3 linked regions of the Homo sapiens genome follow. The protein of the gene in region 3 interacts with the protein of the main gene of each other region in a biochemical or structural test. Each region holds a gene or a part of one and is shown on either strand. Other genes may lie near its edges.

Evidence for each region.
Region 1: of the proteins of FER (region 3) and TMF1, one has a biochemical effect on the other in vitro, tested with the Homo sapiens proteins (one study listed by BioGRID).
Region 2: of the proteins of FER (region 3) and NSF, one has a biochemical effect on the other in vitro, tested with the Homo sapiens proteins (one study listed by IntAct).

What each region holds. Positions count from the first base shown.
Region 1 is NC_000003.12:69,041,211-69,050,047, reverse strand, and holds part of TMF1 (TATA element modulatory factor), read left to right. Parts: intron 1-1,012; exon of another isoform or gene 1,013-1,090; intron 1,091-1,485; coding exon 1,486-2,690; coding exon of another isoform or gene 2,691-2,699; intron 2,700-5,452; coding exon 5,453-5,556; intron 5,557-6,171; coding exon 6,172-6,298; intron 6,299-7,135; coding exon 7,136-7,241; intron 7,242-8,837. UniProt on the Homo sapiens protein: Potential coactivator of the androgen receptor. Mediates STAT3 degradation. May play critical roles in two RAB6-dependent retrograde transport processes: one from endosomes to the Golgi and the other from the Golgi to the ER.
Region 2 is NC_000017.11:46,634,955-46,643,791, forward strand, and holds part of NSF (vesicle-fusing ATPase), read left to right. Parts: intron 1-2,421; coding exon 2,422-2,588; intron 2,589-5,099; coding exon 5,100-5,207; intron 5,208-5,688; coding exon 5,689-5,764; intron 5,765-8,149; coding exon 8,150-8,305; intron 8,306-8,837.
Region 3 is NC_000005.10:108,742,960-108,751,860, forward strand, and holds the start of FER (tyrosine-protein kinase Fer), read left to right. Parts: upstream 1-4,937; 5' UTR 4,938-5,041; intron 5,042-5,988; exon of another isoform or gene 5,989-6,034; intron 6,035-8,901. UniProt on the Homo sapiens protein: Tyrosine-protein kinase that acts downstream of cell surface receptors for growth factors and plays a role in the regulation of the actin cytoskeleton, microtubule assembly, lamellipodia formation, cell adhesion, cell migration and chemotaxis.

The DNA of each region.
Region 1 (8,837 bases), on a different chromosome or scaffold from region 3:
CCTCAGGTGGTCCGCCCGCCTCGGCCTCCCAAAGTGCTGAGATTACAAGCGTGAGCCACTGCGCCTGGCCTGAAGTCATATTAAAGGATAGATTCTACTATAAGGCTTGATAGTTTTTAGAAGCTTTTAGTTACTTGTGCTCTCTCCACCAACTTCTAATTGTGAATATTTTGTGAATATTTTGTTCAGCCACATTTTAATTTGAAAAAGAAAACATTTTTAAAGAAATGCTTTAAATACTTTAACGAATATACCATTTTTAAGATCCTGATTATGCCATTTTTAAAAATCAGGATTTTAGTAGTAGCTATTTGTATGACTGATATGATAATTAACTTTTTCCCCAAGAAAACAGTCATTTTCTTTGTAGCGCTTTTTTAAAAACCCTAGTGTCAACCACCTCTATGTCAAAGAGCAATAGTTCTTAAAAAAACACACATTTCTGAAATTTATAATGACCTTGTAATTTCTGACATAATTTAGAATTTGAGAACAAAACTTCCTCTTAGAGTGGGCTTGGAGAGTGGGATTTAGAGAATCAGCCTGTGATTAAGTGGATGAAAATGAATTTGTTCTCTAGAACTTACCATTCCCATCAGTTTAATATGATCTTCGGGAAAGAACATTTGTCACCATTATCTTGGTTTGAGGCTTTTGTTGTTTTGTTTGTTTTCGAGACAGGTTCTCGATCTGTCACCCAGGCTGAAGTGCAGTGGTTTGATCATGGCTCACTGCAGCTTCCACCTCCTGGGCTCAGATGATCTTCCCACCTCAGCCTCCTGAGTAGCTGGGACCACATATGTGGGCCACCAGGCCCAGCTAATTAAAAAAATTTTTTTGTAGGGACAGGGGTCTCACTATGTTGCCCAGGCTTGTCTTGAACTCCTGGACTCAAATGACTCTTCTAGTGTTGGGATTATAGGTGTGAACCTCCATACCCACTGAGTTCAGTTTTTGAGTGTTGCCCTTTGTCTAGCTCATAACTATATTACTGATATTACAAGTAAAAATTAATATGAAACTGACTGAATAGGTAGGGTCATTTTTCTGTGACTGCACATGGCCCAACCTATTCAGTTAGTTCCATATTAGTTTATTTCATATTGATAAGTAAAGCGTGTTATTATGAGATGAATCATAGGTATCTTGGACTTACTGTGGGTTATAAAACATATACTGTTACTTCCTTAATTTGTTGTGGGGAGGAATAACATACTCGCATCTGGTAGTCCAGGCCAGGCCCAGTCTTTTGTCTGTGCTCCTCCTTCCTCTCAGGTGGACCCACACCAGTTTTCTTCCGTAAGTCCCTGTATTAACTTGGAAACTACTTAATGATGTAGTAAGCAAGGAGTTTAGCAGGTGCAAATTACAGGTATTTCATAGGGTATTTTTTCTAAATTTATATTTATACTGATTTATAATGATGATTGAAATATTAATGTAACATATATGTGTTCTTTTTTAATATTTACTTTTTTGTTAAAGGAATAAGTTCCCCTGTCAGTGGAGGATGGGATACTTCAACCTGGGGGTTGAAATCAAACACTGAACCTCAGAGTCCACCAATAGCCTCTCCTAAAGCAATCACAAAGCCAGTTCGGAGGACTGTGGTCGATGAATCTGAAAATTTCTTCAGTGCCTTTCTCTCGCCAACTGATGTCCAGACCATTCAGAAGAGTCCAGTGGTATCAAAACCTCCAGCAAAATCACAACGACCAGAAGAAGAAGTGAAAAGCAGCTTACATGAATCCTTGCACATTGGCCAGTCAAGAACTCCTGAAACAACTGAATCACAAGTAAAAGACTCTTCTTTGTGTGTTTCAGGGGAAACTCTGGCAGCAGGTACTTCATCACCTAAAACTGAAGGCAAGCACGAAGAAACTGTTAATAAAGAATCGGATATGAAGGTGCCAACTGTAAGTTTGAAAGTATCTGAAAGTGTAATTGATGTGAAAACAACTATGGAAAGTATATCTAATACGTCTACGCAGTCTCTCACAGCAGAAACAAAGGACATAGCTTTGGAACCTAAGGAACAAAAACATGAAGACAGGCAGAGCAATACACCTTCTCCTCCTGTTAGTACCTTTTCATCAGGTACTTCTACCACCAGTGATATTGAAGTTTTAGATCATGAAAGTGTAATAAGTGAGAGCTCAGCGAGCTCGAGACAAGAGACTACAGATTCAAAATCAAGTCTTCACTTGATGCAGACATCTTTTCAGCTTCTCTCTGCATCTGCTTGTCCTGAATATAATCGTTTAGATGATTTCCAAAAACTCACTGAGAGTTGCTGTTCATCTGATGCTTTTGAAAGAATAGACTCATTTAGTGTACAGTCATTAGATAGCCGGAGTGTAAGTGAAATCAATTCAGATGATGAATTGTCAGGCAAGGGATATGCTTTAGTGCCTATTATAGTTAATTCTTCAACTCCAAAGTCTAAAACAGTTGAATCTGCTGAAGGAAAATCTGAAGAAGTAAATGAAACATTAGTTATACCCACTGAGGAAGCAGAAATGGAAGAAAGTGGACGAAGTGCAACTCCTGTTAACTGTGAACAGCCTGATATCTTGGTTTCTTCCACACCAATAAATGAAGGACAGACTGTGTTAGACAAGGTGGCTGAGCAGTGTGAACCTGCTGAAAGTCAGCCAGAAGCACTTTCTGAGAAGGAAGATGTTTGCAAGGTAACTCTAGTAAGTGGAAGGGATTTTTAGATGTGCTTTTTGGAGATTAAATCATTTGTTTTAAAAAATACTTTCATTGATGCATAATAATTTATACAGATTTAAAAACATACGCATTTTGCCATTTCTGTGTAGCATTAAGTACCTTGAAGTTGAACAATTATTAATATAATTTGGAATTTCTCCAAGGCAATTATGGTAGAATAAGTTGATACTTCAATACAGTTAAGCATGAAAGTTTTCATCTTACATCTTTATTTTTGAGTCCTTATCACTTCAAAATTCTGTTATGCTTATTAGTATGTCAATTTGAAAGGAATATTTTCTTACATTAACATGTATCTTCACCTCCTTTGCAGATAGATGTGCCAAAAAAACTAAATGTTATGGTTTTTCTTGTATCAGAATTTGTTTTTACATGTTTACATTATTTGTAGCAAATATTAAATGATAATTTAAGATTTTAATTATTGGTGCTTTTCTGTTATTAGTATTTTCATTCATATATAAGGAGTATATATCCTTATATTGCTTCAGTTTGTTTTCTGCTTATGTTATTTTTGAGATCTCCTATTGATAGCTATATTTCACATGAACGAGAAAGAGAAATGTCTAAGGAACAAAAGCATTGCTTAGGAGGGACAGATTGCTTCTACCTAATACATGTGAAAGGAAAGTGATATAAATTCTTTGACATTAAGTCCTAGTTTTGGTTTTTACTGTGACTTTTAGATATACAAATTTAGTTGGATCTGGTATCTTTAATAGACTTCTGAGATGTAGGATGTCTTGAAGAAATGTCCTGTAAGTGCCATGTATTGAATTACTTAATTTTTTAAAAAAGTGCCAGATTCTGTTAATCAGGTTAAATATTCACAAACAAAATGCTGTGCAATAATATTTCAATTAGTAATAGCTATATACTGTAAGATATATAATAGGAGTTTGAATTCTTAGAAACCAGCACTAATTACTATCAGATATTTTTGAATTTCAGTGTATTTAAGAAGGTAAGTGATTTCTAAGTTCATCTAAACCAAACTCAGGTAAGACTATTTTTTTGAGTCCAAAAAGGAACCCTTCCTACTCCTTTTATACTCAAGTTTATCACCATTTGAGTAGGACCTAAGGAATTAGACATTCCAAGCATTACTTTTTGTTTAGCTTTATACTGATACATTATGGAGATTTAAAAATTCTTATGGGTTTTCTAAAATTACTTTTAGTGTGGATGGATGTATGTATGAATGAGACAGGGTCTCTCTCTATTGTCCAGGCTAGCGTGCAGTGGTGCGATCGCGGCTCACAGGGTCTCTCTTTGTTGCTCAGGCTGGTGTGCAGTGGTGCGATCATGGCTCACGGCAGCCTTGACCTCCTGGGCTCAAGCAGTCCTCCCACCTAATCCGCTCTAGTAGCTGGGACCATAGGCTCGCACCACGCCTGGCTATTTTTTTGATTTTTAGTAGAGATGAGGTCTCACTATGCTGCCAGGCTGGTCTTGAACTCCTGGGCTCAAGCGGTCTTCCCATCTTGGCCTCCCACAGTGCTGGGATTATAAGCATGAACCCGTGTCCAGCCCTACTTTTATTTTATTTTATTTATTTATTTTTTGAGGCGGAGTCTTGCCCTGTTGCCCAGGCTAGTCTGCCTCCCAGGTTCAAGTGATTCTTCTGCCTCAGCCTCCCAAGTAGCTGGGACTACAGACGTATGCTACCATGCCTGGCTAATTTTTGTATTTTTTGTAGAGATGGGGTTTCACCGTGTTGGTCAGGCTGGTCTTGAACTCCTGACCTCAAGTGATCTGCCCTCCTCAGCCTACCAAAGTGCTGGGATTACAGGCATGAGCCACCATGCCCGGCCTCTACTTTTATTTATTTATTTATTTTTACTTTTTGAGATGGAGTTTCACTCTTGTCACCCAGGCTGGAGTGCAAGATCATTGCAGAATCTTGGCTCACTGCAACCTCCACCTCCTGGGTTCAAGCGATTCTCCAGCCTCAGCCTCCTGAGTAGCTGGGATTACAGGTGCCTGCCACCATGCCCAGCTAATTTTTGTATTTTCAGTAGAGACTGGTTTTCACCGTGTTGGCCAGGCTGCTCTCAAATTCCTGACCTCAGGTGATCCCCCCACCTCAGCCTCCCAAAGTGCTGGGATTACAGGCATGAGCCACTGCGCCTGGCCTACTTTTATTTTTTAAATGCAATATGTCATATTTTAAAAAGGGTATGTGTTTCGGGTAAAGAATAATACAGAAAATAGACACTTGTGTATCCACCACCTAGCTAAAATATAGAGGCTTTAAATTTCCTCTTTGACCTCTTTTGATTGCATCCATCTCCCTTCTTCTTTTGGTGTGTATGCAGATTATTCCAGATTTTTGCTATTACCAGGAAGCTACATAAAGTATTCTTATACATGTCGCCTAGTGCATTTATGCAAGAATTTTCTCCTCTAAGGTATACCTAAAAGTGAAATTTTCTATATCAAAGAGTATGTAGATCCCCAACTAGATATTGCCTAATTGTTTTCTCAAGGGGTTTCTCAACTTACACTCCCACTAGCTATTTGGTTGTATTTACTTTTACTCTCCTCTCAGCTGCCTAAGAGTTCTTCTTGTTCTGGATCTTCTGTGTTCCTAATACTGTTCTTGATTGTTTTTATGAGATAAAGCTGTTTTCTTTGTTACAGTGATACACCTGCATGTAAAAATGGTCTTTTTTAAAGCTAAGCGTTCTGACTTTTATGTATTCGCCTTATCCAGACAGTTGAATTTCTGAATGAAAAGCTGGAAAAAAGGGAGGCTCAGTTATTATCTCTTAGTAAGGAAAAAGCACTTCTAGAAGAAGCTTTTGATAACCTGAAAGAGTAAGTATTCTGCAAATGTGAATAATGTTACACATTTTCTGGAAACCTGTATACTTTGTACATATTTAAGAATGTTTTTGAAATTAAAATGTTTTGTAATTTTATCATTATTGAAAGTTGTATAGCTTTCAATTATAACCCTAAAGATTACTTTTCTCTTTTGATTGTCTTTACCCTTTGCCATTGAAGAGAGTCATTTTGCAAAACTGGAAAACTCTTTCCTTTCGTTTTTAGTCTTTTAGTATTAGAGATTTAAAACGTATTTGAAGAAAACTGTGTTAATCAATAACACAGTTGTGCTATAAGGAGCTGATTGGGAAAATGTGATACAAGAAGATTCAGAATTGAAACATTGTATTTACTCTTCTCTTATTTTTACATGTCAGATATTGGTGACATTTTCTCTTTCTAACAGATTTTCTTTGAGGTGTTTTAAAATAAATTTAACAAGGGAAATTTCCTTTTTTTTTCTTAAAAGTTAATAGGCCTAAAACTGTTCTATTTTAATAAGGTATATGTCAGAGAAAAGTTATCTTCCTTTTGAGAATTGAACTCATGTATACCTTTGGGATATATAGACACCATCCTCATTCTCAAATATTATTTTAAATTTAGTGAAATGTTCAGAGTGAAAGAAGAAAGCAGTAGCATTTCTTCCTTGAAAGATGAGTTTACTCAAAGAATTGCAGAAGCAGAAAAGAAAGTTCAACTAGCCTGCAAAGAGAGAGATGCTGCTAAAAAGGTAATTGAAATTTAAAGTAATATTAATTAAACTCTATAGAGATATAGATTTTTGAGGAGTGCATTCATCGTATTTTGATATTGGAAAAAAGAGAAGTAAGGTGAAAAGGATATCATCTATTAACATTTAAATTGTAGATTTTTGGCCACGTGTGGTGGCTCATGTCTATAATCCCAGCACACTGGGAGGCTGAAGTGGGCGGATCACTTGAGCCCAGGAGTTAGAGAGCAGCCTGGGTAACATGGTGAGACCCTGCCTCTACTAAAAAATACATAAAGTTAGCTGGTCATGCTGGTGTGCGCCTGTGGTCACAGCTACTCAGGAGGCCGAAGAGGGTGGATCGCTTGAGCCCAGGAGTTCAAGACCAGCCTGGGCAACATGGCGAGACCTCATCTCTACAAAAAATACAAAGATTAGCTGGCCATGGTGGTACATGCGTGTGGTCCCAACTACTCGGGAAGCTGAGGTGGGAGGATCACCTGAGCCTGGGAGGTTGAGGCTGTGGTGAGTCGTCATTGTACCACTACTCCAGCCTGGGTGACAGAGTAAGACCCTGTCTCAAAAAATAAAAATAAAAATGAAAAGGAAAGTTAATTTATTCTCATTTATATTTTCATATTAACACTTGCTTGTATATCTGAATTTAGGTTTTGAATATCATTTTCAAAGTTGTTTTCTTAGTCTTAGTTAACCAAGGTAGTAGATTAACTGAACAAAACTTACAGATTCTTATTGCAAATGTGATTATGGACAGCTTCTTTGGATGGGGGAGAAATGAGAACTGTACTTAGAGTGAAAGTCATTCTTTACGGTATTCACAGATTTCTTTTTTATTAGGAAATCAAAAACATAAAAGAAGAACTTGCCACTAGATTAAATAGTAGTGAAACTGCAGACCTTTTGAAAGAGAAAGATGAGCAGATCCGAGGGTTAATGGAAGAAGGTGCGTATAGTATTTGGTTGACTATGAAAAATACTGTAAGAACAGGAAAAGTACTTGCCACATAACTAGCTGATGCTTCCTAATTAAAAATACTGAAAGCAAGGAGGGTTTGGACGTAAACCATAGAAATAGGTGACAGTTTATGGAAGAATGAGGAATAAGATATATTGAGACAGAGATACGTGTTTCTAGCTTTTGTTTTTTGGAAGTAAAAAGAAAAGTAAGTCCCTGTAAAATAGACAGAAATTTGTGCTGCCCTAAGAAAACTTTAAACAGGTCTTAAGAGCCTGTCATTTAAACCAAGACATTCAAAGTGTGTAACTCTGGGATTTATGTAATATCTGAATACCTAGCTTAAGTACTGTATGATATTGTCTTTTTCTGACATTTGATAGTGAATTTTTCATTGTATTAATTTTTAAATTATTAAGCACTTTTGTCTCTGAAAAGATTTAAAATAAACAGGGTTGGCTGAGTGTGGTGGCTTATGACTGTAATCTCAGCACTTGGGGAGGCAGAGGTGGGTGGATCATTTAAGGTCAGGAGTTCGAGACAAGCCTGGCCAACATGGTGAAACCCCGTCTCTACTAAAAATACAAAAATTAGCCGGGTGGTGGTGGTGCGTGCCTCTAATCCCAGCTACTCAGGAGGCTGAGGCAGGAGGATTGCTTGAGCCTGGGAGGTGGAGGTTGCAGTGAGCCAAGATCACGCCACTGTACTGCAGCCTGGGCGACAGAGTGAGACTTTGTCTCAAAAAAATAAATAAATAAAATAAAATTAATAGCATTACAGAAATTAAAGATCTATTCATGAAATAAATCATTACAAATGGATACTGAATTAATTTCTTCATGTAATATCCTGGGAGAGAGGAGCCTTTGGAAAACGTGGTCAAGTGAATCTCTCTTTTTATTTCTCTTGTTAATTAAAGTTTTTGTAGTTATAAGAGTAATACTTGCTACTTGTAGAAAGTTTTGAAGTTATAGGAAAGTATATGAATAAAGAGGAAAAGTAGATTATAATCCAATATTATAAGGAACTATTAATTTTTTCTAGTTTTAATGTATTTTTTAATGCATTTTTAAACATATTTAAGATCATATATTTAATTTCCAATCTTCCTTCTCTTACATCTCTCTATGCCATTAAATGCTTTTTATCATTATTAGTGGCTGTATTAAAGTCCATTATATGGGTATACCATAATATGTTTTACTATTTCTAGTGTTGTACATTTATTTTTATAATGTTAATAATATAGTTAGTGGTAGGATGAATGTTTTTGTGCTTAAATCACTGAACTTAAGTAAATTTCCAGAGAAAGGGTAGCGTTTGAGAACAGTTGGAAGCAGTCATTTCATTTGAAAGTTAGCTTTATCCAACTTTTTCATTTATTCAACTAATATTTATTGAACGGTTAGTATGTCAGATACTATGTTTGATACAATAATAAGTATGACACTCTGTCCTTTAGGGGCTTAGTTCAGTGAGAGGGAAATATAGGAACACAGATAATGATAAAACACAATTCTAAGCACTAAAATAGAAAAATGAAGGAACTGTTGTTATAATTATTTTCTCAAGATGTCTTGAAGT
Region 2 (8,837 bases), on a different chromosome or scaffold from region 3:
CAGACATTTAATACTGCACAGTGACTTCTTTTGTTTACCTCTTGCTATTTGACCTCAGTAACTCACAGAAATGCCATGCCTGTTGTTCAAAGCAAGTGTGAAAAAACAGTCTTTGTTTATAACCTGCTTTTGTGGTGAGAACTGTAGAAGCTCACTTACCCAATGTGACTTGGACTGGTAATTAAGTGAAAAGTTGGTTAAAGGCTTTTTCTTGGAGGTGTGGTCCATGGATTGGAGTTCTGTATTATCTTTTGTGCATACACTTTACCCATAATTTCCAGGTGGATTTCTTTGAAATGGCTGGAGAACTTAGACTTTGTAGAGCATCTGAGAGTGCCAAAACCTCTTGGATTTTTGTAGAGTTCACTCCCAACCTTTTCTAATTTTAATGCTTATACCTAGTTAGCAGTATTTTTTTTTTCTAGAAGAAACACTTCATTTAAAAAATTTTCCCAAAGCTTTCAACTTATAATATCTATTCTAGAATGTCAAAGTCATTGTAATAACAGTTCAACAACCAGGCCTTCAGAAGTTTTTATACTATTTAATTATATTTCATAATTAACTGTAACAAGTGTAACTAGCACAGACAGATACCAGAATGAACTTGGTTGACCCATGATGTGTAGCAACTCCTGTCTACAAGCTCTGAGCGTTAGGCAAACCATAGGCTGATGGGTATATGTTGGAGGGATAAAAGTTGGTCAGCTTTCTGATGACTCAGCTCAGTGGAGGTTGCTTACGAGAGCTGCTACTGTATCCTTAAGGGGCCATTGGTAAATTTTAGGACAAGTATCTTCAGGGAACCTAAAGGGAAAATAAATGTGTGTGTGTGTGTGTGTGTGTGTGTGTGTGTGTGTGTGTGCTCGTGTGTGAAGCCTTATTGAAGAGTAGCAATAGACTCTTTCTTACTAGGCGTAATCAAGTTGCCCTCCTGGGGAAACTCAAATGCAAAAATCCTCTTGAACTTTTCTGGGTAGCCTACTCTACTCTTTCCTAATAGTACCACTACAGTATACAGCACTGTAAAATTTTTTGCTTTAAAAGTTTGTTTATAAACTGGCATTTATAAGTATACTTTTTGAGCTGATTTAAGAATCAAGTTTTTTTTTCTAGGGAAATGCTTCTTTGTAATTATCTGTCACTAGCAAAATTTGTTTTAACATATATTTTTCTAAAAATATGATATGTAAACTGTGTTGTAGTTGTACAATTAAAGGTTTTTGGTCGAACAGTTATTACATGATGTAAAATCATGTGTAACACTTTAATATTAATTACATTGTAACCTAAAATTCATTTTAAAACTTTTTATGTGGCTTGAACAGGAATTTTCTTATCCAAAGCTTTGTATGTATGCTTTATTGCCTCCTTTGTTATTAGCATGGAGACCATGGGTTTTCTGTTATTGTTGTTTCATTTAAACAGTTCATGAATATATTAAGCACCTGAAAGAAACTGTTAGATGCTGTTAATAGGAAGAGGAGTTAAAAACCTCGTCCTTGCCCTTATCTACATGTGTACATGTAGAACTTACTGTAGTTCCCTAGATGTAGCAGGTGCTCAGGAAACATTTTTGTAGTAGTAAAAAAGAAATGTCAAACTCTAACTTGCTCTGGAGCAAATTCCGCTAGTAAACATTGTTTTTCAAGCTTCTTTTTTTTGCCTTGCGTCCTACTTTCTTAGGCCAAAATAATTCATCCACATCCCACCTTAGCTGTTTTTTTGTGTCAAACAAAAATCTTATTTGGAAATAGCATGTTATGCCAACTGTGTTGGGGCATCCCATACTGTATTGCATTAAATGAGGAGAAAGATGCAGAGGCCATGTGGGGAGGATTGTGATCCTGATAAGAGTGGGATGAGGGATAACAACAGAGAGACTGCCGTTCAATATTTCTTTCTTTCTTTTTTTTTGAGACGGAGTCTGGCTCTGTTGCCCTAGGCTGGAGTGCAGTGGCGTGATCTTGGCTCACTGCAAGCTCCGCCTGCCAGGTTCACGCCATTCTCCTGCCTCAGCCTCCCAAGAAGCTGGGACTACAGGCGCCCGCCACCACGCCCGGCTAATTTTTTGTATTTTTAGTAGAGACGGGGTTTCACTGTGTTAGCCAGGATGGTCTCAATCTCCTGACCTCGTGATCCGCCCGCCTCGGCCTCCCAGCGTGCTGGGATTACAGGAGTGAGCCACCGCGCCCGGCCTGCCATTCAGTATTTCTAATTAATTCAGATGGGGAAGAAAATCTCTAGTGACTATTATTTTTTAAACCTGTACCTGTGTGTCCCTCCAGTGAAGGCCATTTAAACCCCATTTTTGGTGAAGTAGTTTATGATTCATTTATGTGAAACTTTTAGTTACTAGAAACACTACAGGTATTTTGTACTCCTGTGATTTTTAAAAAAATGCTTCTTTTTTTCCCCTAGTCTCCTTATATACATTTGACAAAGCCAAACAGTGTATTGGCACAATGACCATCGAGATTGATTTCCTGCAGAAAAAAAGCATTGACTCCAACCCTTATGACACCGACAAGATGGCAGCAGAATTTATTCAGCAATTCAACAACCAGGCCTTCTCAGTGGGACAACAGGTAGTTTTTAATTTTCTTTCATTCCTTTAACTTTATAGGTATTCTAATTTCTGCAGTTTTCCAAAATTAATTCCACCTTTTAAAAAGTGAGAGGGGCTTTGCGTATCAACTCGTATATCCAAGGTGAGTGATAAAAGTGAGGGAGATGTATTTACTGAACTTCAAGGAGTCTGTTCAGAAAAATTCTAAAGTAGCTTTTAGATTAAAATGTCATGTATAATTATAGCAGCTTTTCCCTCAGCAAATTTGGGAACCCTGTGGACATATATATCTGAAATTCCTTTTTATATCATAGGACATTTGTTTTGCCTCTGGAATGTCTGTCTCTTTCACTAATATAGTTCTGTAGAAAATGTAGCTCTTGGCCAGACATGGTGGCTCATGCCTGTAATCCCAACACTTTGGGAGACTGAGTTGGGAGGATCGTTTGAGCCCAGGAGCTCAAGATCAGCTTGGGCAACAAAGTGAGACCCTGTCTCTACAAAAATTTTTTTAAAAGTAGCTGCGTGTAGTGGTCTCAACTACTCAAGAGGCTGAGGTGGGAGGACGGCTTGAGCCTGGGAGGTTGAGGCTGCAGTGAGCCATGATTGTGCCACGGCACTCCAGCCTGGGTGACAGATCGAGATTGTCTCAAAAAAAAAAAAAAAGTTCTTATTTTGGTTATGGGCTTATTTGAGAATCTTAAAAAACTGAATTCCTGCTAGATAGGAAAAGGATATAGTACATTATTTTAAAAAGAGTACTAGAATTGGAATGAACCTCAAGAGATTACCTTATGTAACTCCACATATACAAATGAGGAATTTTATTTTTTTATTTTTTAAAATTTTATTTATTTATTCATTTATTTTTTGAGATGGTGTGTTACCCTGTCATCCAGGCTGGAGTGCAGCGGCACCATCTCAGCTCACTGCAACCTCCGCTTTCTGGGTTCAAGTGATTTTCCTGCCTCTGCCTCCCGAGTAACTGGGATAACAGGCATGCGCCACCACACCCGACTAATTTTGTACTTTTAGTAGAGATGGGGTTTCACCATGTTAATCAGGCTAGTCTCGAACTCATGAGCTCAGGTGATCCATCCGCCTTGACCTCCCAAAGTGCTGAGATTACAGGCATGAGCCACCATGCCCAACCATTTTTTTTTTGTATTTTTAGTAGAGATGGGGTTTTGCCATGTTGGCCAGGCTGGTCCTGACCTCAAGTGATCCTCCCACCTCGGCCTCCCAAAGTGCTGGGATTACAGGTGTGAGCCATCACGCCTGGCCAAATGAGGAATTTAAGATCTAAAGAAGGTAAATGGTATGCCCATGGCTACACAGCTAAGGGACATAGTTGAGATAAGAATTAATTAAACACATATTTGATAGTACCTAGTGCCTAGTACCAGTCACTGTTTTAGACACTGCAGATCGGCAGTGAACAAAATAGATATGATCCCTGCTGTCATAGAACTTACTTTCTAGTTGAAGAAAACAGAAAATAAGACAGGAATACCATGTACAGTTAGGTCTCTGATGAAAGTAGATCAGGACAATTCACCAGAGAGCTATTGCGGTGCTGTTGTGTATTGGATGACCAAAATTGTGCTCAGATTGCCTAGCTAAACTTGATGGTTTTTACCTTTGCTTTTAGTTTTAGTATCCTAATAGAAAATGTTTAGGAGAATGTTTAATAGAAAATGCTTTGGTATTTATAATAATTTAAAACTCAGTAGCATGTAGAAGTCAGTAAATCCATGAAAGAGAATCTTTCGTAATTCAGAGAAGAAGTAAATATCTTACTCCAGATCACTGTCCTTAACTGTTTCTTCTCATTTGTGGTATCTCGTAGTAGCAGAATGGACAGACAGCCCAACCTGTAATATTTACCATTATACCCCAGCACATAGAAGAAGACCAAACTTTTAGAAGGGACTCAGCAAAGATTTGGTGAATGAGTAATTGAGCATTCAGAAGCTGTCTCTGCACTTGTAGGGCAAGCATTTTGTACTAGTGATAGAAAAGCAGGAATTGTAGAGTCACAGACCCAGGGTTGACTTCTGGCGCTCTCATTTACTGTGACTTTGAGCCTTGTTGCATAGCCTGTTTCTGCATCTCAGCTTCCTCACTAGTAAAATGGAGTCGTAGTTTCTGCTTCCAAGAGTGTTTGTGAATATTATATAACTGGCTGTAGTGTTTGAATAAAATACTAAGAAACTTTATTCTTTGTTAGAAATAGTAAATGTGGTACTCTTGAATTACTTTAGGTGGCACTCTGACATTTAAATTAGATATTTTTTATCCATGTGGAAGAAATTTTAAACATGAGTTTTGCAGTCATTTTGTAAACACTGATCGTAAGTGCTAATTCCCTTTTCTTCATTGGCTGTGAGTAGTTTGTTTGAGGAGCAGATTGGAGAGGAGTATATAAGATAAACTGGTTTTCTGCATTTGAAAAACATTGGTGATGATCTGAGGATCAAACTATTATATTATGAAGTGATTTTTCTCCCCTTACCTCTTTTCTACATAGCTTGTCTTTAGCTTCAATGAAAAGCTTTTTGGCTTACTGGTGAAGGACATTGAAGCCATGGATCCTAGCATCCTGAAGGGAGAGCCTGCGACAGGGAAAAGGCAGAAGGTAGCTTTTATTTCTGATCATCTTTACTAGATCATCTTTATAATGTAATTTGTGCAGATTGATTATAATTTTCCTATCTGTTGCTTAGTGATTTTTTTCATATTGTGTACCCTTTTAAGATAGTAGGGAGAAAAAATTGCTTTCATAGCCATCATTGTTATTAAAATATAGCTTAAAATGTATTTATTTGCAGACCTAATATTAATGTAAAATGTAGACGTATATGTACATATAATTTGCTTGAATGCAGATATTTATTGTAAATAAATAATAAGAAACGCATTATTGGAAAGATATAGGCATGGAAATAAGGCATGTAAGAATTGTAGAAGAAAGTTATGAGAAAAGTAAAAGTAGCTCAGATGATAGTCTGGAAGGTTTGCTTTGCCCAGAGAGACCTCATTTCCCCCTCACTTTTGGCCTTGCTTTGAGAAGTCCAGAAGTTTGCTATTAGACTACTAATTATTGTCTTTCTCTACAGATTGAAGTAGGACTGGTTGTTGGAAACAGTCAAGTTGCATTTGAAAAAGCAGAAAATTCGTCACTTAATCTTATTGGTAAGATTTACAGTTTTTAGAAGATTTGAAATGAAGTGGGCCTATTTCTATATGTAACTCAACTACAGTGATTTCCAAATGGGGAAAGGAAAGAGGGGCATCTCTCTTGAGAGAGTTTATCACAGAAGCATGGGGTATTTCCTGTTGGTCAGTTTGCTGATGAAAACGTTTAAAACCTTCATCTGGATCAACTTTGTCCAATAGAAATAGAGTGTGAGCCACATGTGTAATTTTTAATTTCCTAGAAATTGCACTAAAATAAGAAACAAATTAATTTTTTAACTTTTAATTTTGAGATAATTTTAGGTTCACAGATTTGCAGAAATAGCTCAGAGAATTTCTGTATGCCCTTTACCAGCTTACCCTGATGTTAATGTCTTATTTGACATTTTCAAAAGTACAATGATAAGAAATGAACATGGTTTCATTTCTGCTAACTAAACTACAGATTTTATTGAGATTTCACCAGTTTTTCCATTGTGTCCTTTTCTGTTCCAAGATCTAATTTAGGATCCCATATTGCATTTAGTTGTTCTGTCTTTTGAGTTTTCTTCAGTCACTGACAGTTCCTCAGACTTTGTCTTTTATGACTTTGAGAACTGGTCAGTTATTTTGTAGAATGCCCCTCACTTGGTTTTGTGTTAAATGAGATAGCATCATCATTTCTTTTAGTGATTAAGTGATGAATGTGCAGGTCAAGTCTTCCCAGCAGATTCATGGTTCAGTCCTACTCTTGTACTCTAGCACAATTTTTGTCATATTAAAACAATTGCAGCTTATTCTCTGAGAATAGTAACTCACCAGAATAATGTGACATTAACTGGGCATTAATTCTTATTTTTGGTTGATTTAACTATGTTGATGTCTACCCTACTAGAGAGTAGAGGGTTTTCATTGGTTGCACATCATCATGTCCAGGGTCACTTAACAGTCTTTGAGTGCGTGGCCTTTATTTCCTGGTCCACAAATTACCATTCCCCCTTATTGTTTTTTGTTAATTATAAAATATTTTATTTATAAAATATGGATAGGCATTCGAAAACAATTCACACACTGTAAAATTTGGTTCTGTTTTCATAGTTTTGTAATTTGCTTTTTTTGCTTAGCATGTTTCAAACATCTTAAATATACACCTATAACATGATTTTTAATGCCTGTATGTCATTTTATGAAGGTAGGATGTATTTTCCTGTTATTGATCTAGTACATTTATGAAGTGACTTCTTTGTATTTTATTTTTGTGTACCTTTTGTTAAGATATCCCAAGGGAGTTGCATAACTTTCATAGGTATTTCTAAGTAATCCATGGGAAAAAAATTGTGTAGTTAATTGGCATTCAGTAAATTTTGCCCACAAGAGGGCAGTAGAGTGTAAGAAAAAAATATTTTTCATCGCTTTCCAAAGGAAATCTTAAGGCCTCAAAACTCTAACCATAAAATTATCATCTAGTATAAACTTTTAAAAAGCGTTACTTTATTTTTAATTGACAGATAATAATTGTATATATTTATAGGGTACAATTTGATATTTTAATACATGTATACATTGTAGAATGATCAAATCAGCCTAATTAACATATCACCTCAAATATTTAGCATTTCTTAGGATAAACTTTTTTTAATGTGACATTTTCTTCCCTGGTTTTATAAAAACCATATTATTACTTTATTTTTTGTTTATAATAGAGCATACTAAGGTACTTAATTTATTCTTTGTTTGAAATAGTAAATGTGGTTCTCTTGAGTTACTTTAGGTGGCACTCTGACATTTAAGTTAGATAATTTTTGTCCTCTTGAGAATTTTTAAACATGAGTTTTGTAATCATTGAAGTCTTTAGGATGATTTCAGACTTTTGTGTCCAAGTGAAGAGAAAGCAAAGAAGACATCAAACTTGTTCAGTATATTTCCTTAGGCTGAGGGGTTATATGCCCAATTACCTGTATAAGCTTAATCTGGATAAATATATGTATTTTAAAATAAACTTGCGTTAGGAGACTTCAGTGACTGCGAGATTTCAGTTGCATTTCTGCCAGCTAGTGTTGTCTTCATCAGATATGGCATTTCTTCTGATCAACCGAGTTAGTTAATTTAGTTAGATTGAAGGTTAATAAAACTAAGTTTTATGGACTGATACAAATAGACTACAGCATAAGTTTAGCTAGTCATTTTGACAGTGTGTTACCATATATGGAGATCAGACAAAGTAGATAGCATAGCAAAACTTACCCTTCTGACTGTAAAATCAGCTAAGATTATATTGTTCGTTTTGTATATGTAAGGGTAGCTTTTCTTTATTCATTTAGGATGCTCAGGGAGTTCTGTCTGTCTTTTTAGACTTAGTGATAAAGTCCTTGTTTCACATTTGATAATATTCGTTTGACATAGGCAAAGCTAAAACCAAGGAAAATCGCCAATCAATTATCAATCCTGACTGGAACTTTGAAAAAATGGGAATAGGAGGTCTAGACAAGGAATTTTCAGATATTTTCCGACGAGCATTTGCTTCCCGAGTATTTCCTCCAGAGATTGTGGAGCAGATGGGTAAGTTTAAAAAGGAAAATGTTATAAAATCTTGTGTTGTTAAAAAAATTAATGCAATGAAGAATCTCTTTTCAATAGTTTTGAAATTATTTTTCAGACCCATTATTTTTGTCTTTTTCTTTAAAAATGAACAGATAAATTTTCTGAAAAACTTTATAATACCAGAACTTTTAAAATTACATTTTAATTTTATGGGGAAATCATAGAAATAAGACTTGTGGTGGCTCCATTTTGTTTATTTATTTATTGAAGAATGCTTTTCTATGGGGCATATTTAGAAACTTCCCCTGACAGTAATAATACTAGTAGTGACTCCATTTTATTTATTTATTTGCGTAAGAATGTTTTTCTATAGGGCATATTTAGAAAGTTCACCTGACTCTAAAGATCACTATGGGTCAGATGTACCCTGCTGAATAATAACTATCTATTAGGCTGTGTGCATTGTTCTGACATTAGCTGCCGTTCCTTTTTATTGTACTGTTGCATTACCCAGTTAGTACATCTTCATACCTAATAAATGGGTACTTGC
Region 3 (8,901 bases):
CCCCAATAAACTTGTTTGTGGAAGCCTGGGGAGTTTCTTCAGATCTCCAATAAAACTTATTTAATCCTAAATGGGTCCTGTTAAGAATTTTGTTATTTTTGTCATGTTCTAAGGCCCAGGAAAGGCCTAGGCAAAACTCTTGGTGGGCTTTTCTTACATTTCAGCCTTTGTATAAGGGCACTGGCTTTTAATATTTAACTTAACCACTCAGTCAGTACTGAAACAGTTGTTATAGAGGCCTATGCTAGTCAGACCTGTCCTGCCACAATCTCTCTTATTTTAAGCCCTCTTTTTGGTGGAAAACACCCTTAAGTACCTTCATGAGAAAAGATTTCATAGAAATAAAACTTTTTGAGATCTTGCATGTCTGAAAATACTTTTATTCTACAATTAGACTTCATTGATTGTTGGTTTTATTGGGAATTCTGGATTGTAAATGATCTCTCCTTGGAATTTAGGATATTGCTCAATTTTCTTCTAGTTTTCAGTATCATTGTTAAGAAGTCCAATGCCTTTCTCTGTTCTCATGTCTGTTCTTTTGTCTGCATTCTGTTATTTTATCTGAAGCATTTAGGGAATTTAAAAAATCTCAGCTGTTCTGACATTTTAGGATTAAGTGCTTTTGTGTGAGTCTTTTTCATTATTTTGCAAGCCATTCATCAGATCCTTTTCAATCTGGAAACTCAGGTCCTTCAGTACTGGGGAAATGTCTTTCTTTGCTAATTTTGCCCCCTCTCCCCGTCTCCTTTTTTCTTTCTATAGATTAGATGTTTGATCTCCTGAATTGATCCTACATTTTTTTCCTCATATTTTTCAACTGCTTGTCTTTTTGTTTTTATTTTGAGACTTCTCAATTTCATTTTATCATCTGCTATTGAATTTTAATTTGTTTTTTAACTTTTCAAAGTTCGTTTCTCTCTCTGAATTTTTCTTTAGAAAAATAGCCTCCTGTTTTCATTTCTTTAAGGATTGGCAGACCTTATTTTTGACGTGATTAGGCAGGGAATCTGTACATTTTGGAAAATCCCCCCGCCCCCACACCCTCAGTACTCACTAGTTATAAAAATACTTTTCCTCAGGCAAGTCAATTTCCCTAAAAAGGAATCCTCTAAGGTCTTCTCTGAGGGACAGGAACCTGAATACAGTCATTATGGGAGCTTGGAGGATAAGTCTCACAGTTTAGTATGTAGACTTTCATGTATTCCCTTTACCCCAATGTGCAGTAGGCACTTTTCTCCTAGGTAATATTCAGCTGTCTCTGTATCTTCAAGATCTGAGCTTCTCTAATGACTCCAAGGAGTAAACCTTGTTGTCTCTGGATTGTGGTAGAGTAGTGTTTTAACCTAGCTGCTTGGTGGGGGAAGTGATCTTGATGGGGCAAGTAGGGTCTCCCTACTCCTTTTACAGACTGTCAAGCAATCCTGTTGTTTACAGCCTCTTTTCTCAACCATGCCCCCTCAGAGATCCCTAGGCCTGGACCTAGGCACTTTGGGAGGCCAAGAGAGGTGGATCACTTGAGGTCAGGAGTTTGAAACTAGCCTGGCCAACTTGGTGAAACCCCGTTTCTAATAAAAATACAAAAATTAGCTGAGTGTGGTGGCACATGCCTGTAATCCCAGCTGTTCAGGAGGCTGAGGCACCTGGACCTGTGTTTATGTTATATCAAGGATTTTCAGGACAGAGCAGAGATAAATGCCTGAGTTCAACACACCATGTTGAATAATTCACTGGTCTCATGCCAAACATACAGACTTTCCTGAACTTTTTTGCCTTTCCAAGTGAGAATCTTTGGGAGTTAATCTGGGAGTCTATTTTTGAAAAGATCCTCAGGTGATTCTGATAATATCACACATATAAATTCATTATTACAGCACTGTTACACAGGCACACACATTTTTCAGTTAACTCTGAAGCCATAATGAACCAGGGATAAGGGGATGAGGAAAAGGACAGGTCAATTCTGAGAAAAGGCCGGGCACGGTGGCTTATGCCTGTAATCCCAGAACTTTGGGAGCCCGAGAGAGGTGGATCACTTGAAGTCAGGAGTTCGAAACCAGCCTGGCCAACTTGGTGAAACTTTGTCTCTAATAAAAATACAAAAATTAGCTGAGCGTGGTGGCACATGCCTGTAATCCCTGGAGGCCGAGGCAGGAGAACAGCCTGAACCTGGAAGGCGGAGGTTGCAGTGAGCTGAGATCACACCACTGCACTCCAGCCTGGGTAACAGTGAGACTCTGTTTTAAAAAAGAAATGAAAAAAAAAATCTGAGAAAAGGATGGCTTAAAAAGGGACAGGCCTTTAGTGATCCAGGGGCATTTTGGAGAAGGCATGTCTTGATTACGAATGTTGGTGGATTTCTTAATGGAGAGCAGGTCAGGGAAGCAGGAGAACCAATATTAATTAGAGTACTAGGATGGCCACCCGCTGGCTGGGAAAGATGGTTGGGAGATGGTGTTAATACATTTGACATCTAGTTTGAAGACAGAATGGATGTTTTCTTCCTTCAAGTCTACTTCATTTTCTTTTCTTCCCTCCCCCTCCAACTACTCTGCTATTTTCCTAACACAGATTCAAAAAATAAAGGAAATGATTAAGCCATTTTGAAAATTTGAAATTTGGAAAGCCAAAACAGTCCTAAAGAAAATTTCACACAAATGTGACCTCTAGGAACAGTATTCATTCAAGAGAACAATTTTCAAAAAGAAAAAAATATATATCCACTGAAAACAAACACTGCAGCATGTATAGAATAAGGATAGATATGGTTTCCATATTGCATACCTCATCATGATCTCTATTTTAGGAGCAGTATGTGTGTATGGTTAGTTATGAATTGTGGATAGGTATGAATTGTGGATTAGAAAGCAGAGAGTCACAAATCAAAGGAGTTGGCAGAAAAGAGACACAGATGAAGAAAAGGAGGGAGGGGTAAGTATTGGAACTACTGAACTAAGATGGCACACAACCAAGATTCCTCTTGCAGTCTATACTTTTAAACAGGAAAAAAGGGAGGTGGAGAGATGGGGTGAGGCATGGATGGTGCTAATCAAAAAAAGTAAAAAACTTTTCAATCATTTTTTATTACCCACCTAGGTTTGATGTCCACATTATTATTTTCATTGTCCAGTAAGTAATGCTATTAGAACAGACAAAGTTTGGTATTTGAGAACATGGAATATATACTAAGGTGACACACAGTGTTTATTAAATGTGTTGCAATGCAATGTGATAATTCCAACAGAGGAAAAAAATGTGAAACTGGATTTGCTATATATTTTTGTATGCTTCAAAAATGCAGCATAGATTTTTGCCACATTCATTTACTTCAAGTATATTCTTTCACAACTGCATTTCCTAGCACAATGACTGGCATATGGTAGACAGCTTTTAAGGTTTTGGAATGAATAGGTGAGAACTCAGAGAACAATTGTAGATATGGAAAGATTCTTGCTGATTTTTCTAGATTTGGGTTCCTTAACACAAACACACATGTTGTGTATCAAACAGCTCTATTTCTACCATATCTTTATTGAAAGCTACTTTCTGCAAATATGTAATAACGTATTCACCAACCACATCTTTCTACATTTTGATTCCCTTTGTATAAATGGAGAAATTCTAAGGTTCTTGGGAAAGGTATTCAGTCATGAAGCAGTCTCCAAAGTTGTATTTTGGCCTTACCTAACCAAATTTTCATTCATTTCATTCTTATTGACATTACATATACTATAACATTTGATGTTCACAGAAAATTAACTTCTATTTTAAGAAGTTTACTCACAGAACCACAGTTTGTGCATTTAACAATCACTATGAAATACATATGAAACATTAACCATCATTTTAGAGAACAATTTAAAAACTCCGAAGTAACTACTTTCCTTAACTTTGTCATCCCAACATTCTGGGTATAGGCATTGTTGGAAAAATATAATTAAAAACCAAAATCTCCCAACCCAGAAATCCTCTCCACAAACGTTAGTAGACAAAACACTTTTATTACTGAATAAGCATTAAACGAGACTGTGATACACATCACAGGCAATTTGCTAAGAGATTGCAAAGACAGAAATCTTGCCCTTTTGTATAGCCAAGTATATACGACCCATTACATACACGTTTTCAAGTTGAACAATAACTAGTCCTCAAGTAAGAGGACCTGACATTTGTGACATTAACTTTACTTAATAATTGGGGTGACCATCTGTGTTAGTTAATTGGTTTTATCCAGAGGAAAAACAAACTTCTCCTGTCTTTATGACGGAAGGTAGTTTTGCAACACGGAGCAAGTTGCTCACCGAAGTTACGCTCCTACTCTCTCACAGAAACTGGGAGATAGGGAAGGATGCTACTCCGTTGATATGTGCAGCATTTCAAAAAAAAAAAAAAAAAAAAGGTCCAGAGACATTCCTGACTGAGCATACAGTTGACAAGACCTATCTAGTCCTCAAGTGGATTTATACACATTTCAAAGAGTTGAGAAAGTACTTAACAATTAAGAAAGTACTTAAGTTTTCTAAGACAAATGCTCGGAGAGAAAGGGACGGGAAATCTCATCCTCCATTTTCAATAGGGAGAATTAAGCCTCTTATTTAAAATTTTTATGTTGGTTTTTGTTTATTTAGCTTTAAAACAGTAGACTTAAAAAAAGTCCAACTTAAGATTTATGTTTTTTTATGTGTAGGGCTGTTCTCTACGGTTAAATAAATAACCCTGCTTAGAGAAAATATTCACCACTCTTCTTTGGCTCCTATGTAACTCAGTTTTTGAGAGGGAGGGGAAATACCGGATTGACGCTATGTGGTTCAACCAATGCAAAAGATAACACCGCCTTAAAAAGTCTACTACAGGAACATGGGAGGGTCACACCCTCGAATAATGACGCATACCTATCCTACTGTTACTGATCACCTAGTAATAATCTTGTAGTTCACATTACTCATTTTTCACCAAATTCTTTTGGTGAAGGACGCTTCAGAAACGGCCATCACTGAAGAGCAGACCCGTTTGGGTTCTCCACGCATTCTAGACTCCCGAAGAGGTAAGAATTTATTATAGGGGGCCACTCCCAGGACCTGCTGTATGCTTTTAAACATCCATTACAATTCCAGCATTGAGTTTCTAACATTTTTAGGCAGGCTCAGGCACTGGGAGTACAGGATTGAAAGACAGTTCCCGTCCTTAAGGGACTCAGAGTAAACTGGAGTTGCTGAAAACCATTCTAAAGCAATCCACGTTAATAACAGATACAAGTAAAACGTGGGAACGTACAGGAAAAAGTGACCAATTCTGAGGCTGAAAAGTGCCTATTTTAGGGGTGGGGGCCTCGCGGCCCTAAAGCAGCTTCCCTTCCCGGAGATTTCAGCTCCAGGGATCGCCCAGCGCCCTCCGGGCACACTTAACATTTTAATCACGCCTCCGCCCCCACTCTCCGAATTCCTTTCCGGCTGCCGACCCGCCGAGTAGTCCCTTCCAGGCGGCCTCAGCTTATCATCGCCGGTCCGGCCACTTCCCGGCCGCGGCCAGGCGAGCCTCCCAAAGTTTCCTGTGAGGCCTTCGTCCGTCTCCGGCCCCATCTCACCACGGCAGCCCAGGACACCCGCTAGGGAGGAGCAGGTTACCGAGGCGGGGAGAGCGGCACAAACGCGCAGACCTCGGGACTCCACCCGGGCTGGTGAGCGAGCCCAGAAAGCGGCGACCGCAGCTCCGCGTCTCCACTCCCAGGGCCCGCAGCTTGGGCTAAGCGTGCGCCCACCCAGCCTAGGGCCCAAGTCCTGCCCCTTCGGGGACCGGGCCAATCGGCCGCTCCCCGCCTCCTGGGAGGTAGTGGAGGAGGGGGCTGAGGGCCGGGCGGCTGCGCCCGCCTTCCGCTCTTGCCCATTGGCTGAGGCCTCGAGGGTGCCCGGAGACCGGAGTGCAGCGGGATTGGTTGCAGAGGTTCGTGACAGTGGCGCCTATTGGCTGTGGCAGCCCCCGTGACGCGGGGTGGTGACTGGCTCCGGAGTCTGAGGGGTTCGGGCTTGTCAGGTTCTAGGTAGGTGCGTTTCGCGCCGCCGGCGGTAGGCGCTGTTGCCCGGGGCAACGCGGGGGGAGGGGGGAAGAGGAGGGAAGGCAAGCCTAGAGCGGGGGCAACAATGCCTGCCCGCAGAGGGGCGCCCGGGATTCGGCCAGGGCGTTGGGGGCTGTGCCGAGGCTCTTCCTCCGCCCTCAGCCAGCGCCCCCCCCAACCCCCGTCCCTGGCTGCAGGGTCATCCGCTCATCCTCCCGCCCGCAGCAGAGCATTCCTGGTTGGGGCTTGGGCCGGGCTACACACCCAGCCCCACGAGGGCCGCCCCTCCCACCATCCCGGGACCCGAAGGCTGAGGGGGCGGGTGCCGGCGCGAAAGGGCTGTGGCGGGCGTAGTGGCTCCGCCCCGTCGCGGGGTCTGGGGGCTGATGGGCGTGAGGCGGGGTGGTGGGGGGACTGTGGGCACCACCCAATCTTGCCTGTACCCTCACCCCTTTTCTCGGCGGCACTCATCTGGGCGCCGCCGTCCCGCTACGGGGGCATTCTCAACCCCTGGTATTCCCCCCATCCCTTCCTGCTTCTGGAGCCCCGCAGTCTCCCTTGACCCGCTCGGTCCTCCCCAGCTCTCCTCCTATCTGTCACCTTCTCCCGCTTTTATCCCCCACCTCATCTTTCTCCTCCGGTCTTGGCCAGAGGTGTCCTCCAAGAGTCTAATCAAGAGATAGATCTTAAGTGTGAAGCTAGTGGTGTCGTCGGTAATTTCTGCTCTGTGGTCTCTTTGCCAGTTAGAATTGGGGAGATGTTTGGAGGCACCTTCAGGGGTCATCCTTCTGCCTTACAGTTACCCCTAGGATCTACTTTCTGAATACGCTCATTGGGTTGTGTTGGTAGGGGCAAGGTACTTCTTAAACAAATTGAGGATTGTACTATGAGGTGGGCACTTTGTACGTTTGCGATTTTGCCATCCACTGTAGTGCAATTCAAAATCTAATAATTTGTTACGGCTGGTAGCCTTACATTTTTTTCCTTCGCCTTATGGTTAAAAAAAGAGCAGCTTTTTAACCTTTTTAATTCAGAAGTTGCGTATATTAATGGTTGTCTCACTATCACTTTGACATAAACTGCTGTAAAGGTGTACTCCATTTTCCTTTTCTCCAGATATGTTAAGATAATAAATTTCTCAGATGAGGTTACCATATATAAAAGTGTAGTGGAACATCAATAAGAGAATAGATCAAAACTATTTTAGTGATTAAAGATTAGAAAATACTTTTCAATTCATATGTGGAATGAGAATAGGATAAAAAAAAAAAACTATTGCAAAATCTTTAGTGCAGTATTTGTAGTCCTGGTATATATACCTGTGTTGCCCTTAAGAAGACATTTGTGAGTAGCTCCAGGTTTGTCAGTCGGGAAAGCAGAGTGTATCTTTTTGTAGTCCAGGAAAGCTTTTCTGCTAGTACTTTTGAGCCAAGAGAATTATGCTTCCAAAGATGCTGGGAATATATTAAGAGAGTACATAGGCATACTTCTGTTTTCATCTTTGAAAGACCTTTAGTGAAGATCTGTTTCTCTTCTGCATTGATTGTTGACAGCATTAAATATACATAATCTAAAACTATGTAGTGTCAAGTTGTTGCAGCTTCTGCACTGCTTCAAAGGTTGATGTCTTTAGTTCAGAAGAAATAATTCAAGCTTTGGTAGACAAATCATTTACATTTCATCTTCGATGTAGATGTTACTGTAACTCTGGACCGTGAACATTTCAAATTTGCCAGTTTTTTCTCAACTATTTTACTATGAAAAATTTCAAACAATGCAGAAGAGTCGAGTTGAACCCACCACCTATATATTTAGCAATAACGATTTCAAGACCACTGTTACACAGTAAACATTAAGGAATAGAGGAACTGAAATGATCAAGCTTAAAAAACCAGCGTATGTGGCCGGGCGCGGTGGCTCATGCCTGTAATCCCAGCACTTTGGGAGGCCGAGGCGGGCGGATCACCTGAGGTCGGGAGTTCGAGACCAGCCTGACCAAAATGGAGAAACATGGTCTCTAATAAAAATACAAAATTAGCCGGGCATGGTGGTGCATGCCTGTAATCCCAGCTACTCGGGAGGCTGAGGCAGGAGAACCGCTTGAACCCGTGAGGCGGAGGTTGTGGTGAGTGGAGATCACACCATTGCACTCCAGCCTAGGTAACAAGACCGAAACTCCATCTCAGAAAAACAAAAAACAAACAAACAAAAAAACCACAAAAAGCCCAGCATATGTATATACATGTATATGTAGTATACATGTATATACACACCACCAAATTATAAGGTGCTTATTTTTGTTTGTGAGTGGGAATTGTACTTACTAAAACTATACTAACTTAATTACATGAGACTATTCAAAGCAATCTTGTGAGTGAGGTAGGAAGTCATCATCTTTGTAATCAAGGCCCAAATAAGTAAACTGCATTTTGGTAATCAGACAAAAGGAAATCTGATGAACTTGTTATACAAAAAAACGTTTTGCTTCAAAATTGGACTCCTGTGTAAATAGATTATAGTTTTGTACTTGATTTATAAATAAACATCTTTTGGAGGGAAGTCCAAGGGACTATCAATTATGTAAAATTTTGGTAACTTGATAAATTGGGTCAATCTTATGTCTGTTCATTTGGAATAAGAATGTATTTTTGTAATGGAAAAAGCTTACAAAGGTGAACTTTTTTTAGTAGAACTGCTTCATGGAGACTGACGTAATTAGAGAAATTTAAGTCAGTATTTCGATAGGACTCAACGATCTTGGGTGTTGTCTCATGGTTCTGAGGAATATTTTGATATAAAACTTCAATTTATAGTAAAGGAATAAGTGGAAATGGGTATAAATTCACACATTT